2 linked regions of the Homo sapiens genome follow. The protein of the gene in region 1 purifies or fractionates together with the protein of each later gene. This does not show direct contact. Each region holds a gene or a part of one and is shown on either strand. Other genes may lie near its edges.

Evidence for each region. Proteins that work in one complex are often made in the same cells at the same time.
Region 2: the proteins of DNM3 (region 1) and DNMBP purify together in Homo sapiens (affinity purification with mass spectrometry; 4 studies listed by BioGRID and IntAct, with this or other methods). This does not show direct contact.

The regions. Positions count from the first base shown.
Region 1 is NC_000001.11:172,403,959-172,411,976, forward strand, and holds part of DNM3 (dynamin-3), read left to right. Parts: exon of another isoform or gene 1-3,813; coding exon 3,814-3,883; 3' UTR 3,884-8,018. UniProt on the Homo sapiens protein: Microtubule-associated force-producing protein involved in producing microtubule bundles and able to bind and hydrolyze GTP. Most probably involved in vesicular trafficking processes, in particular endocytosis.
Region 2 is NC_000010.11:99,999,272-100,007,289, forward strand, and holds part of DNMBP (dynamin-binding protein), read right to left. Parts: exon of another isoform or gene 6,966-8,018; intron 3,753-6,965; exon of another isoform or gene 3,671-3,752; intron 1-3,670. UniProt on the Homo sapiens protein: Plays a critical role as a guanine nucleotide exchange factor (GEF) for CDC42 in several intracellular processes associated with the actin and microtubule cytoskeleton.

The DNA of each region.
Region 1 (8,018 bases):
AAATGTTTTCTGGTGTTGAAGTTAGCAAACATCTTTAGCATTGCATATTAAGAAAATTCACCCTAAATTGCTTTCTAGTACAGTTGTATATACAGATTTTTGTTGTTACTGTTTTAGAAAAAATAAATAAAATGTTTATTTCTTCTGCAAGGTTTAGTGAGGAGCTCTTTAGGATTTTTAATGACTAAGTACATATTTGGGTTCCTTTAACTGCAACTAGGCATATTTCCAAGATATCATAGTTACTTTGAGAGAACATGAACATTTTATCTTTTATTATTTTAATTATTAATTCACCATCTAGCTATGCAGTGCCTATTAAATGCATGTCCCTAGGGACATCCTTAAAGAGCTCATAATGAATAAGTTATCCTGATTGACTGATTTATTTGGAAAAAAATACAATACTATGAACCACAGGCCATGCTAAGTTATGGGATATGGTAGTGAATAAGACTAACAATAGACCTGGCACATAGCAGAACCATATGTTCTCCTCATCTCCTGTCTTGACTTCTTTCTGCAATTGCCTGCTACTATTGTGCTCTTGTCCCAGCCACATGGTCCAAGGATTAAAGCAGATATTAATGAGAATTTACTGTGCCATAAGAGTACTTAAGTCTTTCTATTCTCTATCCACACCATTGAATTTTTCCCTTCAATCGCCATCATTTAAGTTCCAATTTCACTCATTATAGACCTACATTCCTACTTCCAAGTTTTATATGCAGCAGTTACAATCATGTTTGCCATCACTTTGACCACATTATTGTATTTTCAGACTTCCCAGAGTGTATTCTCAGACTCCGAATTACAAAATTTTGCCCCACTTTTCCACTTAAAATGAAGTACTATAATAAAGCTACTTTCATATTTGTTTTATTCCACTCATCTTCCATTCTGAATAGATGCTGAGCTCTTTAAAGTCATGTAGCATGAAGCAGTCCACATATTAGATGCTCAATAAATAATCTATGCAATATATAACTGGAAGTCTTGACATAGATCATCTAGTCTGATTGTACAATTTGGCAACTGGAGCTAGAATCCACATTTTCTAACTTCTGATCCAGGACTCTTTCTATGTAAACATAGTATCTCAAATATAAGCTTCTGATAAATGCCTTAAAAGTGTAGCATCCTTGGCCTCGCTAGACCTACTCACCTTGATCTAGCCTAAACTCTAGCCTGGCTAAATATCTTGTTTAGGCACTTTTCAGTCATTTCTTCATTTGTCCATTATTCAACAAATACTTAACCACTGCTTTCTAATCACATTGTACCAAATGCTGAATACACATAATAAATGCAAAATATGTGGTTTCTTTTCTCAAGGAATTTTGAATCTATTTGGGGGACACTGGTAATAATCTAGTAAATAAATACATAATCACAAGTAGGGTTACGTGCTACGAGAGACACAAACATGAAGTCATAGGGGAAGGCAGAGGAAGTCAGGAAAACTATGGGATGGTCCAGAAGGACTGAGGAATAACAGTTAAGCCAAGAACAAAAGGATCAAGAGAAGTCAGTTTCATTCCTTTCTCTCTTGGCTACAAGCCTTGATCCAAGCTATCACATATTCATGAAACGATTTCCAATCCATCATGCCATGCTGTATCCTACTTCTCACTGAATTTGTAGTCTAAAATCAACTTTTTATTTAATGAAATCACCTAATTAATTCCATTATCAAAACTTCTGGTAGAATTTCCCTCCTTAAAGCTCAAATTCTGGCCAGTTCTCTCCTCCCACCAGCCAACTGGTTAATTGCTAAGAATACATTTCCATAGGTTACATGATTATTTGACAAACTCCCTGAGGGCAGGGGGCTTATTATTTGGTATTTATTCCAAATATCTACTAAAGAACTGAGCAGTTAGATACTTTAGAGTCACCAAGGATCTCAATCCTACATGTCACTTTAGCTACTTTTTTTTTTTTGCCATGGCCATGATTTACTCACAAATATCCTTGTATTTATAAGACCAATGAATATCACAAGCATTCATTAGTTATTTCTTGATTCTAGGAGGAACTTTCATTCATTCAGTTATCAAACATTCAGTGACTGAATGACAAGCAGTGAGCTAGATACCACAGTTACATGAAGATGATTAAGAGACAGCTCATTTCTCATCAGTGAAGATAACATATAAGCCTAATTAGAGTTCAGTGTGATGACTAATAATAGAGATTTGTTGAGATGCTATACAAACAACTGTATCAGGAGAGGGGAAGGCAGGTCAGGGAAGGCTTCACTGAAGTAAGTCTTAAATGATTAGTTAGTAGTCTCAGAAGATGACCAAAATGACATTGAGAATGTAATTGCATGTAACACCATGCTAAACACTGTATGAAACAAGTTAAGTGGGTGTGACCTGCGCCCTTCAGAAACTTCCTATCAAAGAAGAAAATTATGCAGATTCAAGATTCAGGACATAAGTTAAACATATATGGCCATTTTAAATGAAAATAAGGCTGGGTACCATGGCTCACACCTGTAATTCCAGTGCTTTGTACCTCCCCAAAGAAAGATTTCCTTTGAAGCCTCTTACACATTTTTCAAGTGCATGAGGTAAAAGGAATTCTACTAATATCTATGAGTTTGTGCCTAAATAGTTAATATTTTCACCATTAATCAACAATATCTCTCCTGCTTTGATTTTTCCTTGATCGTGTAATTTAATTTTATAGTTCCATGATTTTTCAACAACTATTTTTTTCAAAACTATTTTTCAAAACTATTTTTCATAATAGTTTTCTTAAATTTTTCTAACTTCACTTCTTCATACCTGAGAAAGGACATTCAATTTGATCAATATAGAGTTTCTAATACAGAAGAAAAATTTATGACTATAATTCCAGAAGGAGTCTTTCTGAAAAAATCAGTTGCAGAGTTTTATCAAAAAGAAACATTTCAATTTGTAGACTTTGTCAAATTTGGGGGGGTAAAAAAATGACTACCCAAGATACCATATATGAAGTCAAGTACACAAATACACTAAAAAAACTTATTAATATATTTAGGAAATAAATGTAGAAGCTTGAGGAATAAATAAGTAATAAATAATATTACTTGGTAATGTTGAGACTCTCAAATACAGTAATATTTCATTATCTAAAGTACGTTTGCTTAGTAAACTCAGCTACCAGAAACATCATTACCAACTAGAAAGTGAGTAATACTACTAATACCAATACTAAAGTCTTTAAGACCCAAAATAGGAACTAGAGCTCCTGCAATTTAAACAGGCACTCAACACTGAGCCTATTTACACTTGCTACAGAGAACTCTAAAGACTTGCTTTTCTGATTTTTAGTGCTCTGTAAATTACAAGCATAATATAGAACAAATTGGAGAAAGTCAAAAAGGCAATGAGAAGTGATAATAATATCCTGAAAGAAAAAGGAAAATTATATGTGAGAAATAAAAATTCAAAAGCCATCATTGTCTGAAACAGTATACCTTATTAGTTCCTGAGTTCATTCTATGTAATTATTATATTCTATTGGCTAAGATATGTGCAGTACGTTTCAGATGGCTTTCAAATAGTTTCATATTTCTTATTAGTATTGGAAGGAATGACTTCAGTTTTGAGAAAGATTTGCATATGAAAAAAGACGTAATTTTCATTAAAACTACTAGATAAATGAAAGGTGACAATGTTAAAATCATTACAGATCATAACCACTTCTGCTGGCCTGTATGTGCATGAGCATGTGTGTAATGGCTCTTTCTCAGTGTCCTTGGAACAATGTTCTGCTAGATATTCTACTTGTTTCTTTACCTTTCTCTTTTTCTCTTTCTAGCCGGAGACCACCCCCATCACCAACTCGTCCCACTATAATCCGCCCACTAGAATCCTCCCTGTTAGACTAAACGAAGTGTCTGGCATGGCAATTAATCACTAATGAATTATGCGAAAGCAACATATTTGATAACCGTTGCAGTAAATCATGAGTAGTCGCATGTGTGGACATCAGTAGGCAAGTAACCAGTTTTACTAATGCATTCATCGCTCATCTTCATTGCTCATGGTATGTCAAACCTTTGGGGTTTGACTCAGAAACTGCTAACCTTTTAGAGGCTTTATATGTTGTACTGACCAAGGTAGGTTTGTATAGCAGCCCTATACTTTGGGGATCATTTGCCTACCATGGCATATATTTGAAATTGCTTTGGACAAGTTTTCTAGGCTATCTACCAGGTAGCTCATTAAACGTAATTCTTCAGATATGAGATAGTGGGCTTAGACCTAAGCCATACATATTTCTTTTCCCACATTCTGTTTAGGATGACAGTAATTCTGTTGTCTACCATTAATGCTACTACCTACTCCATAATTGCCTATTTAGCTCCTCTTTTCTTCCTTTTTATTTCATAAGACTGCTAGGAAGTGATTTTTTAAAATTAGGACTCCTTAAGAATAAACTTTTCCAGAAGCACGAGGTAGTTTGCAAAGGAAAAGTCTGCACTGTTTGCTCTAAAGAGCTTCTCCTCATTCCAATGTGTTTTGCTTCATGCTAGAAGCATATGCAACAGTGAATAAAAGCTTCTTTTTTTGTTAATCAGTCAATAAATTTGGCTAATTAGTTTCAGAGTTCAAGGAAGAAGCAAAATATCACATCTCTAGAAGTGTTGGGAAAAATATAATTTCTTTCTTTACTTATATTCACCTCATGGTAGGTTATATTGAAGGCTGACATGGAGAATGTTTACTTTTCTATTTGGCATAGCTAACTACACTTTGATACTAACTCCAGTTTTACTATTATTATTTTGGTTGGAAAAAAAATTCACTCTTTACGTGCTAATTTGTAATCTTGTTTTGTAAGAATTTATCCTACCCTTGAAACAGGCTCAGTGTAACTGTATATCCATTCTAGGCTTTCTTAATAAATCTTGAGGCTATGGGATAATCACATTTAAAGAATGGTTCCTGAAATGAAGTCAGTAGAAATGGCATGGGATAAGAGCAGAGCTCACACTTTTACAGTTGCAGTATTTCAAAGTCCCTATCCAGGTCACTCCAGAAAAGGGTATTGAAACGTTGAAATCTAAAGCAAATTTGCAATTTCTTAAGATTTCTAAAATTTACCAGAACAGTTTAGCCTGGGGGTTAATAGTTAAGTCTTGAGGCTAAGTTTTGGACTACCAAGGACCAGATGATTCACATGTAGGAAACAGCCAGAAGCCAACTGGAATTTTGTGTGCTAACTGTTCCCAGACAGCAGAGCAAGTATTCACTGAGTAGGGGTGTCCCATGACACTATTTCATATTCTACAGAAGTAAATCAGGTTTCACCAACTGAAATGTCTCCCTTTGAAAGTAGCAAACATGATTTGTATGTTAACTTAACTTTAATTTCCTGTGTAGTTTACACCCAGAGCAGATACTCATAAAGTATAAAGTAAAAACTTTTAACCATTATTAAACAGAGAACTTGCCATGTTGAGTGCCATTGTATTGAACTTATTCTAAAGGCTTATGCTAACCCATTTATAATTGGTAAAAATCAGAAAATACAAGATTTACATAAAGGTCATTTCAACTTTTAAGGTTACCAGTGATTGTATAAAAACATCACAATCCTAAATCCTCTCGTATCTCACCCCAAACCCCAAACTGGGGGAAAAAAAGTTAACTCTTTGTGAATGGAACCAATGTGCAAGATACATACTGCATTTTTAAAATAGTGTCTCAGCTAAATGGAAAACTGTTAAGCAAACATCCATAGTAAAACAAATAATCTTCAGTGAGATCTTTTTATAAAACTTCTTGTTTTTAGGATTCCCTTTGCTTCTTCCTTTGAATTCTCTAAAATAGGCAGCTAACGGATTATATACTTCAGGGTTTGGCTTTGTGCTAAATGTGGTTTTGTGTTTTGCTGTATTTCAAAATTTTCCTTCTGTTAAAGGAAAATATTGTGAATAACCACTGGTGTGTTCTTAGATCAGCACAAACCATGTCAAAAAAAATTGGAGATTTTTTTCCAATTTTCCTTCCACTGATCTTAGGCAGTAATAAACAATGGCATTTGTCATCTTTGGCACTTGCTTTTAGATTATAGTCCCACAGTTGCACTGCCCCAATTGTCTACCTTTGTGGGTACATTTTTGTTCTTTACTCCTAAGTTATTTCTCATAGAACCCAGCCTACTCTAGAATTTCAGCAGTGACATTGGAGAATATTTTTAATTTGCTGCAGTACTATGTCATATTATTAGTATGAATCTCATTTCCCAAAGGGTTTGTATTCTGCTAAAAGGAGATGCCAATGTTGAATGAAGTCTGAAACTCTAGTATGTGCATAGTTTGACGTGCAGCATGCACACCAGGCCTTAAGATGGGAATGTAGCTTAATGATTTTCTGTTTCCCATACCATTTCTAATCTTTTGTGTAATTTTCTCTTAACTGATTGCTCTGATATTGTAAACACAATAGATGTAGCTCTATCATGTCTAGCATAATTTAAAAAATCAGTGTTTTTAGGATTTGGGAAAATAAACTGTAAATGTTTATTTGATAGGTAAATATAGTTTTATTGTCACATGCTAAATATTGCATGCATATTGACTAATTGGAATAACCATTTACTCAATTATGGACAGCTTATTGAAATAGTATTGATTTAGAAAAAGTATATTGCATTTCTAAAAAACATCTACCAAGGTTACTCGTCTGAATATTGCTTTTAGCCGTGTTTTATAACATAGACGAGCAGTAGGGTCTGTTTATTAGCAAATTTCCTATTTGTTCCAATACAAACTCACTTTATTCTAAAGTATATTAATGAAACCAGTTCCTGTGATGTAACTGTAAGCCTTCTCGACTTAGACTTAAAAAGTGGTCACATAGATTAATTTTGTGACTTTTTAGTATAGACTGTAGCCATAATTCTCAAATATGAAATGGGACCTAATACCAGTATGTGATAAATGTTGATGTTTTCTGTGTACAAACACATTTTCTATGCATGTGTCTCTGTGTATATGGCATATACCTAGTAAGTATGTTTCTGTAAGTATGTGTATTTTATGTCCATTTGAGTAGGTAGGTAGGTTTTAAAAATACTAGTTAAAATGCCACAAGCATGAGTGTGATTGTATGTGCACTGTGTGTATATATATAAATATATGTATATGTATGGTTGTAAATATCTATGTATACATGTACTTAGTATGTGTGGTATCAGGATATTTTTTAAACTGTGATAATACAACAGATAGCTTTGAATGATCTGCCATAACATGTGGTAACAATAGTTCATTTCTCATAACATATATGAGGTATACAAAATTTTCTAACTCCAGATTGTAGTCATTTTGAGAGGTACAAAGCTCATAATTACCATGACAACATGGTAATGTCCATAGACATTTGTATCTGAATCCACAAGAAGATCTGAATCTAAGAAGGAATTACCTTTGACAATATTTTTCGGTAAGAAGTAAAACCTCTGGAGACCTATCTTTAAGATCTCTAATTGGAATTATAAATTATTTTTGGATTGCTGAGCTGAATCTTAAAAAGCCAAGTTGATATACATAGTCATTTTTCCTCTATGGTAGAAGTAAAAAAAAAAAAAAAGGACATAGCAACATTAAAGTAGTGGATTTTTCTGAGTAAATTTGCTGAAAATATAAGAGAGAAGCTATCTAATACCTTGGAGGTAGGTCATCCACTTTTTCAGGTAAACATTTTTCATTTGGCAAATGGCATAATTATTTGAAAGTGACAGGAATCTCCTCAGAATGAAGAATAAAGCCTACTAGGTCTCTAACTGTTGAACTCATGAAAGAAGATAGTGTATGAGACTTAAGCCATGAGTTTTGTATCATTTCAATTAGAAGACTACTAGCTGTGAGCTCAGAGTTTAATGTAAATGAATCTAGATGATTTTGAAGAAATGATTATTCGTTCACCAGATCACTCATTGTACATTCTAAAAAGCTCAAATGAGTCTTCTAGATACTCTTACTCATCCTGTCTGGTTGCTATGTTTAAAATTAT
Region 2 (8,018 bases), on another chromosome or scaffold:
ACATGAGTTTGAATTTAATTCTATTCACTTAACAGTGGTACAACTTTAGGGCAAGTTTCTTACGATCTGTACCTCAGTTTCTCCATCTATAAAATGAAGATTCTAACAGCACCTTCCTCGTAAAATCATTTTACAATTAAATGACAATGCATGTAGTATGGTAGCTAAAATATGAGCTGCTGTTTTTACATTATTGTTGTTGTTACACACAGTAGTCCCCACCTTATCCGCGGTTTCACTTTCCACAGTTTCAGTTACCTATGGTCAACTGCAGTCTAAAAATAGGTGAGTACACTACTAAGACATTTTGATAGCAAGAGAGCCCACATTCACATAGCTTTTATTACAATATAGTGTTATAAGTATTCTATTTTGTTATTATTGTTGTTAATCTCTTACTGCACCTAATTTATAAATTAAACTGGATCGCAGGTAGGTACGTATAGGAAAATGCAGAGTATATGTAGGGTTGGTGCTATCCACAGTTTCACGTATTTACTGGAGGTCTTGGAATGTATACCCTGTGGAAAAGCAGGGACTACTTTATATAAGTGGATTTGGGCCAGACTTGAGGGCCAGGCAGGCAGCAGAGTTTAAAATTTACTGGGAGAGGTGGTAGGCACTGGTAAGTGTCAGGCAGTAGAATAATAAACAAAAGCGGTATTTCAGGAATATGAGCCAAGCAATGGCCTCTACAGGATAGACTGGGTGTGTGACACTGGCCTCAAGAACACCATTATGGTGTATTTGTGGCAGCTTTTTAATTTTTTAGCATTTTATATAGTGCTATTAATATAATTTGAAGACTTGCTTTAGAAAACAGTGACCAGGTATGCAAGGCATAACTGTTCATCGTAACAATTCTGAACCAGATTAGAATACTTACCGTTCAGAATACTTATTGTTCGGAAATGACAGAAAAGCTAAAAAGTTTCCACATTGCAGGGGAGGGGAGGAAAGAACCAACTAGAAAGCAGGAGGACCTGGGGTGTGAGGCTGGGGAGGTAAGCATAACTCGGCACATCCATTGCAACATTTTCTGCTGATGGGGCAGGCTCATTTATCCTAAGAGAATCACCTCATGAAAACAATGCAGAATGCACTCTGGGCCCAGACCCACAGCTAGAATGTCAGTGCTGATTATTCTCTCCCAGTCCATGTGTTTGTCAGCAACACAAACATTCACATGCTACTTTCGGGAAAATGCAGCCTCCGCAGGAGGGGCTAGAACAGATGCAGAGAGCTAATTTCTCTGTGTCTGGGTGGATGGTTTCATTTGCAATGTCAAAGACAAAAATGGGGATTCTACTAGCCTGCTGAACCTATGCATTGAAAGGAAGCTAAGAGAGCTTTCTTCTCTCACCCCTCCCTTAGATGACCCTTCTCTGGATCACAGTGTGGCTTCTTTACAGGTTGATTCATCTTATAGATTCATCTGTTGAGGGCACATCAGGTACCAGGCACTGTTCGAGGTGGGCTTGGGTTATGAACAGGGAACAAAACAAAGATTCCTGCCCTTGAAGAATTTTCTCCTTGAGGAATTGGGAAGGCAGACCATTGTGTTTTAGAAAGTGACACCTGTTATGGCAAAAAAAAAAAAAAAAAAAAAAAAAAAACCCAGCAGGGTACAGGAATGGGGAATTTCAGTTTCAACACCAAAGGACACTGGGGGAAAAAAGAGCCGGGCACGGTGGCTCACGCCTGTAATCCCAGCACTTTGGGAGGCCGAGGCGGGCAGATCACGAGGGAGGAGTTCAAGACCAGCCTGGCCAACATGGGGAAACTCCATCTCTACTAAAGAATACAAAAATTAGCCAGGTGTGGTGGTGCGTGCCTGTAATCCCAGCTACTCGGGAGGCTAAGGCAGGAGAATTGCTTGAACCCAGGAGGTGGAGGTTGCAGTGAGCCGAGATGGCACCACTGCACTCCAGCCTGGAGGACAGAGCAAGACTCCGTCTCATTAAAAAAAAAAAAAAAAAAAAAAAAAAAAAAAAAAAAAAAGGATAGAGAGTGAGAAAGGAAGGCAGGTAGACATTGAATCTCCTCACCATAGGGATGTTCACCTATGAATTCTGTCACTTCCACACTAGCAAAAAGTGATTAGGGAAACAAAACAATTGTGATGGGGTTTTGTTGTTGTTGTTTTTTTTTTTTTTTTGAGACAGGGTCTCACTCTGTTGCCCAGGCTGGAGTGCAGTGGTGCAAGCACAACTCACTGCAACCTCCACCTCCCAGGTTCAAGCAATTCTCCCACCTCAGCATCCTGAGTCGCTAGGACTACAGGCACATGCCACCATGCCCGGCTAGTTTTTGTATTTTTTGGTAGTGATGGGGTTTGGCCATGTTGTCCAGGCTGGTCTTGAACTCCTGAGCTCAAGTGATCCGCCCGCCTTGGCCTACCAAAGTGCCGGGATTACAGGTGTGAGCCACCGTACGTGGCCTGTGCTAGGTTTTCAGAGTCAAAAGAAAATAAATGACTATTTTCTCCATTCTATTTATTTTCTGAAAGATTAAAGCAAGTGTGGTCTAGATAAGGAAGGTGACAACCTGGGAGGACTGAACTGAAGCAAAGAGACCTCAAAAGTACTTCTCCCCTCCACACCCTTAAGCTAGTTTTTGGTCTGTTGGGCTTAGGGCTAGGATTGCTCCAAGTTCTGACAATGACTCTGGGCTGTTTGTGCACGGAGGCTCCCTCAGGCATAAACTGTTCCAAGAGAGGAGCAAGCTATCACCCCACTGCTACAAGTTAATTGTAAGTTTTCTATCGATTTTTCCCCAGAGAGCCAATCAAAGCAAAATGAACATGAGTTAATGATCTAGCCCTGAAAAAGGAGGGGTGATAGAAAATGATATAGTGCAATGTTAAGTGCCCTCTCCTCCTCAACATGCTCCCCCACCCCAATAAAAAACAGAGACAGAGAAATAACCAACGTTTTAGCAGGGGTTGGTGCTAAAAGGCAGGATTATAGATTCGCTTTTCTATATTTTACAGATGCTCTGTAATAAAGAGGTATAATTTCACAATTAGGAAAAAAAATGGCTAGTCTAAAAAGAAAGAAAAAGAAAGAGAGAGAAGAGCTGGCCATGAGAATTCACTGCCCAACACCCTAGCAGTTAGTGCTGCTAAACAGCTATCTATGGCTCTACTGACGAGCCACCTCAATATTTCTTGAGATATAATTTAGTAAGATTTATGCCTGAAGTAAAGACCGATCCACAGAGTAAGGAAACTATAATTTTACATATCTTATATTTACAATCATGCTGACAACAAAACTTATCATCCTGAGTATGGCTCTTTCTCTCATTTTTCACATCAGCTATTTAAATTCTGACTCGTAATGCCAGGAGGAAAAAGCTGACCTAATGGTGAAATAAACTTGTATTGGAATCTTGAGATGCTTTCCACAAATTATATATGTAGGGTTAATAAATATCTTCTGCTTGAAACAAAGTCAGCATAGGGTTAGGATTTTGGTATACAGCCTTCCTGATGCCATCTTATTTCCTCAAGGACAGATCCTGAAAAAGTACTTGGTAAGGCTTAATACCTATTTATGATGAAAACTCTCAGTAAACTAGGATTGAGGGTAATACCTTAAAACTTGATAAAGGTAACATACAAAACCTAAAACAAACATTATATGAAATAGGAAATCTTTAGACTCACTCTTTTTAAGACTGAGAACAAGACAAAGATGCCCGTTAGTGTAGCAGCTGTTTTGACACAGTTCTAGTAGTCCTGGCCAATGCTGTAAGGAAAGAAAAATGAATAAGAAGTATAAGAATGGGAAAGGGCTGGGCACGGTGGCTCAGGCCTGTAATCCCAGCACTTTGGGAGGCCAAGGCACGTGGATCACAAGGTCACATTGAGACCATCCTGGCTATCATGGTAAAACCCCATCTTTACCAAAAATACAAAAAAATTAGCCAGGCGTGGTGGCACACACCGGTAGCCCCAGCTACTCAGGAGGCTGAGGCAGGAGAATTGCTTGAACCTGGGAGGCGGAGGTTACAGTGAGCAGAGATCGAGCCACTGCACTCCAGCCTGGGCGACAGAGCGAGACTCCATTCCAAAAGAAAAACAAACAAACAAACAAAAAGAACTGATGAAGCATGTATTTAGAGATTAAAGGGACATGATGTCTACAATTAAAGGGGTCAGGGGAAAAAGCACACAAAGAAAACATACTCTTAGCACTCTTCTGTTAGCTTTAAATTATTTCCAAAATTATAAAAATGTCAGAAAAATGAGCTGAATAAACGGAAAGACACATTATATGCTCTTGGATGGAATGAGTTACTATTTCAGTGGCTCACACTTGTAATCCCAGCACACTTTGAGGTGGGAAGACCATTTGAGGCCAGGAGTTACTGGCCAGGGCCCAGCCAGGGCAACAGAGTGAGACCTCATCTCTATTAAAACAACAACAACAACAACAAAAAACTTATAAAAATATTTAGCTGGGTGTGGTGGCTGCAGTGAGCTATCATCGCACCACTGTACTCCAGCCTGGGCAACAGAGGGAGACCCTGTCTTAAAAAGAAAAATAAAAAATAAAAAAGCAACATGGCACATAAAAAATAAATAAATAAATAAAATAAGATGTTAACCCTCCTCAAATAATTTATAAACTCAATAAACTCCAATAAAAATTCCTCAAAAATATAATTTTTTGGCCAGGCACAGTGGCTCATGCCTGTAATCCAAGCACTTTGGGAGGCCAAGGCAGGAAGATTGCTGGAGCCCGGGAGTTCAAGACCGGCCTGGACAACAAAGGGCGTCCCTATCTCTAAAAAAATTACAAAAAAAAAAAAGAAAAATTAGCCAGGGATGGTGGCACATGCCTGTGGTCTCAGCTACTTGGGAGGCTAGAATGGGAGGATCACTTGAGCCTGGGAGGTTGAGGCTGCAGTGAGCCGTGATGGTGCCACTGCACTCCAGCCTGGGTAACAGAGTGACACAAGGTCTCAAAAGAAAAAATATATATATATAAATATATATGTATATATAATGTTTGGGTAGCCTGGTAAACTTATTCCAAATTTTATATGGAAAAAATAAATTTTGGTCCAGGAAGAGCTAAATAAACTTTAAGATGAATGGCTTGCTGTGCCAGTCATTAGGACATACTACAAAGTCACTGTAATAAAATTAGAGCAATTAAAAAAATGAAGTAAGAACTGACAGACTAATGGAACAAAATAAATGCTTAGGGCCAGACAAGTGTATCCATGGAAACCACAAATGAGAAAGAGATACCATAATTTCATAGAGGAAAGCATGGATTTTGTTGACATGTTATTAGAAAAACTGGGTCATTAAATGGAGAAAAATAGGGCTGGATTCCTATCTAACACATGAAAATGCGGGCCCTAGAGAGATGAAAGTCACAGACATGACCTAGGGTTCAGGAAGAGTTCCTTAAACAAAACTCCAAAAACATAAACCGCAAGTCAAAGAATTTATCTATTTGATTACATCAAAATTAAAAATATTTCTTGATCAAAGGATGGCAAAGACAAAACGAGAACTAAATGAGAAGATTTGATCAACAGATGTCAAGATGCCCAAATGAGAAGACATCTGCAAAGTCTAAACATAACAGGGAATAAATACCTATATTATAAAATCATTTCTGCAAGTCAACAGCAACAAAATAGATATCAACTCCAACAGAAAATGCCAAAGACATGAATAAGCAATTTACAGAGGAAGCTATCTGTATAAGAGATACTCAAAATCTCTAGTCATCAAAGAAATATAAATTAAAACGACAAGATATCACTTTGTGCTTACGAGATTGAAAACCATGGATAGCTGGAAAGAGGCGAGTGCTGGTGGGACATGAGGATACAGGAGTCCTCAAATATTAATACTTCCAGAGGCACAGAGACTGGGGCAGCCACTGTGGAGAGGCATCTGGCACTATTTAATCAAATTCAGTCTCTGCAAGCCTATAATCCAGCAATTCCACAGAAATATTATACAGCTTTGTAAGGAGACATGTAGGAAGATGTTCACTGCAGCAATATTTATGGTGTTAGGGGGTAGGAACAACTTGAGTAACCACTCACTACACAGAGAGCAGATAAAGCAAAACCAATGGATGCAAACAGCATGGGGTATAAATGCAGCATTCCAAAGCAGAGAATTAGACACATAACAATATGGATGGATCTTAAAAACACTACTCAGAGACCTGGCATGGTGGTTCATACCTGTAATCCCAGTACTTTGGGAGGCCAAGGCAGGCGGATCACCTGAGGTCAGGAGTTCGAGACCAGCCTGGCCAACATGGTGAAACCCCGTCTCTACTAAAATACAAAAAAATTAGCTGGGCGTGGTGGCGCATGACTGTAATTCCAGCTACTCAAGAGGCTGAGGCAGGAAATGGCTTGAACCCGGGAGGCGGAGGCTGCAGTGAGCCGAGATCTCGCCACTGTACTCCAGCCTGGGCAACAGAGTGAGACTCTTGTCTCAAAAGTCTCCAAAAAAAAAAAAAAAAAAAACCAAACTACATAAAGGAAAATGAATTACAGCATTATAAATCAAGATACATACACATAAAACAAACATTCCCACTTTGCAAGCTCCTACATAAACAAAAGGAAGCACATGCAATGCATTAAGAATGAACACCTGTGAGACATGAGATGAATGGGACAAGGGAATTCTACAACAAAACCAATCTTTTAGATTCCTTGCGTGTTATAAAAGAAAAACTCTTATGACCTACGATAAACACAGAATTGTTTCCTTCCCCAAAGTTCCCAATTTTCCAAACAACAAAAGCTACTCTGGTTGCCAGTTCTGTTGATGAGTAACAGCTTTTCATCCTTTTTCAATCAGGAAGGGAAAATTCAGGGATCAGCAAAGTACAAAAGGGATGAGCAGAGAATATTTACGAAACAGTGTTTTTGTTCTCATGACCTGACAATCTGACTGAAAAAGACCTGATTACCTCTTGATTTGGGATGATTCAGCTACAGGCAGGTTGGTGTCAAGTTTTCAGGTCATCTGAAGCGATTTACTTTCAGAACCTCTTCCCACGCAATCCTCTTGCCTCCCTGTAGAAATAATACCCTGCACTACTTGAAAACTTAAAATTCTTGAGCTAGAGAGGGCCCAGTTATTTTACAGATGAGGAAACGAAGACTCAGGGAAGAATTATGGTGTGAGTCACACAGCTCTAGCTTGAAAAGGTCTCCCTGACTCAGCCCTTGTCCTCTTCCTGTCTATTCTCAACCCAGCAGCCAGTTATCCTTTTAAAACATAAGTCATCATCAACTTCACTGTTCAAAGCTCTCCAACGGCTTCCCCCTCACTCAGTGTAAAGGCCAAAATCCTTACAATGACCTACACTGATGTGTCCTCCCCACTCCCACCCCCTCTCATCTGCTGCCACCTCCCCCCAACCCACATCCACACTGACTGGCCACCATGACCTTGCCACCCCTAACATGCCAAGCATGCTCCTGCACCAGGGTTTGGAACATGCTCATCCCACTGCCTCCTGCTCACTTCCTCATTTCCTTCCAGTCTCCCACCATGAGTTAGGCCAGGTGTGGTGGCCCATGCCTGTAATCCCAGCACTTTGGGAGGCCAAGGTGGGTGGATCGCTTGAGGCCAGGAGTTCCAGACCAGCCTGAGCGACATAGTGAAACCCCGCGTCTACTAAAAATACAAACATTGGCCCAGCGTGGTGATATAAGCCTGCAGTCCCAGCTTACTCGGGAGGCTGAGATGGGAGGATCACTTGAGCCCAGGAGGTTGAGGCTACAGTGAGCTGTGATCACGCCACTGCACTCCAGCCTGGGTGACAGAGCAAGACTCTGTCTCCAAAAAAAAAAAAGTTATCTCAGTAGAGGCTTTATTTGACCCCTCTATATAAAAAGTAAATCCCCTACCACACATATACATACACACACACACACTCTTACCCTTTCCTGACTCTAAAGTTCTCCACAGCATTATGATCCTTTGACCTATTCATTCACATATTTGTCTGTTTCCA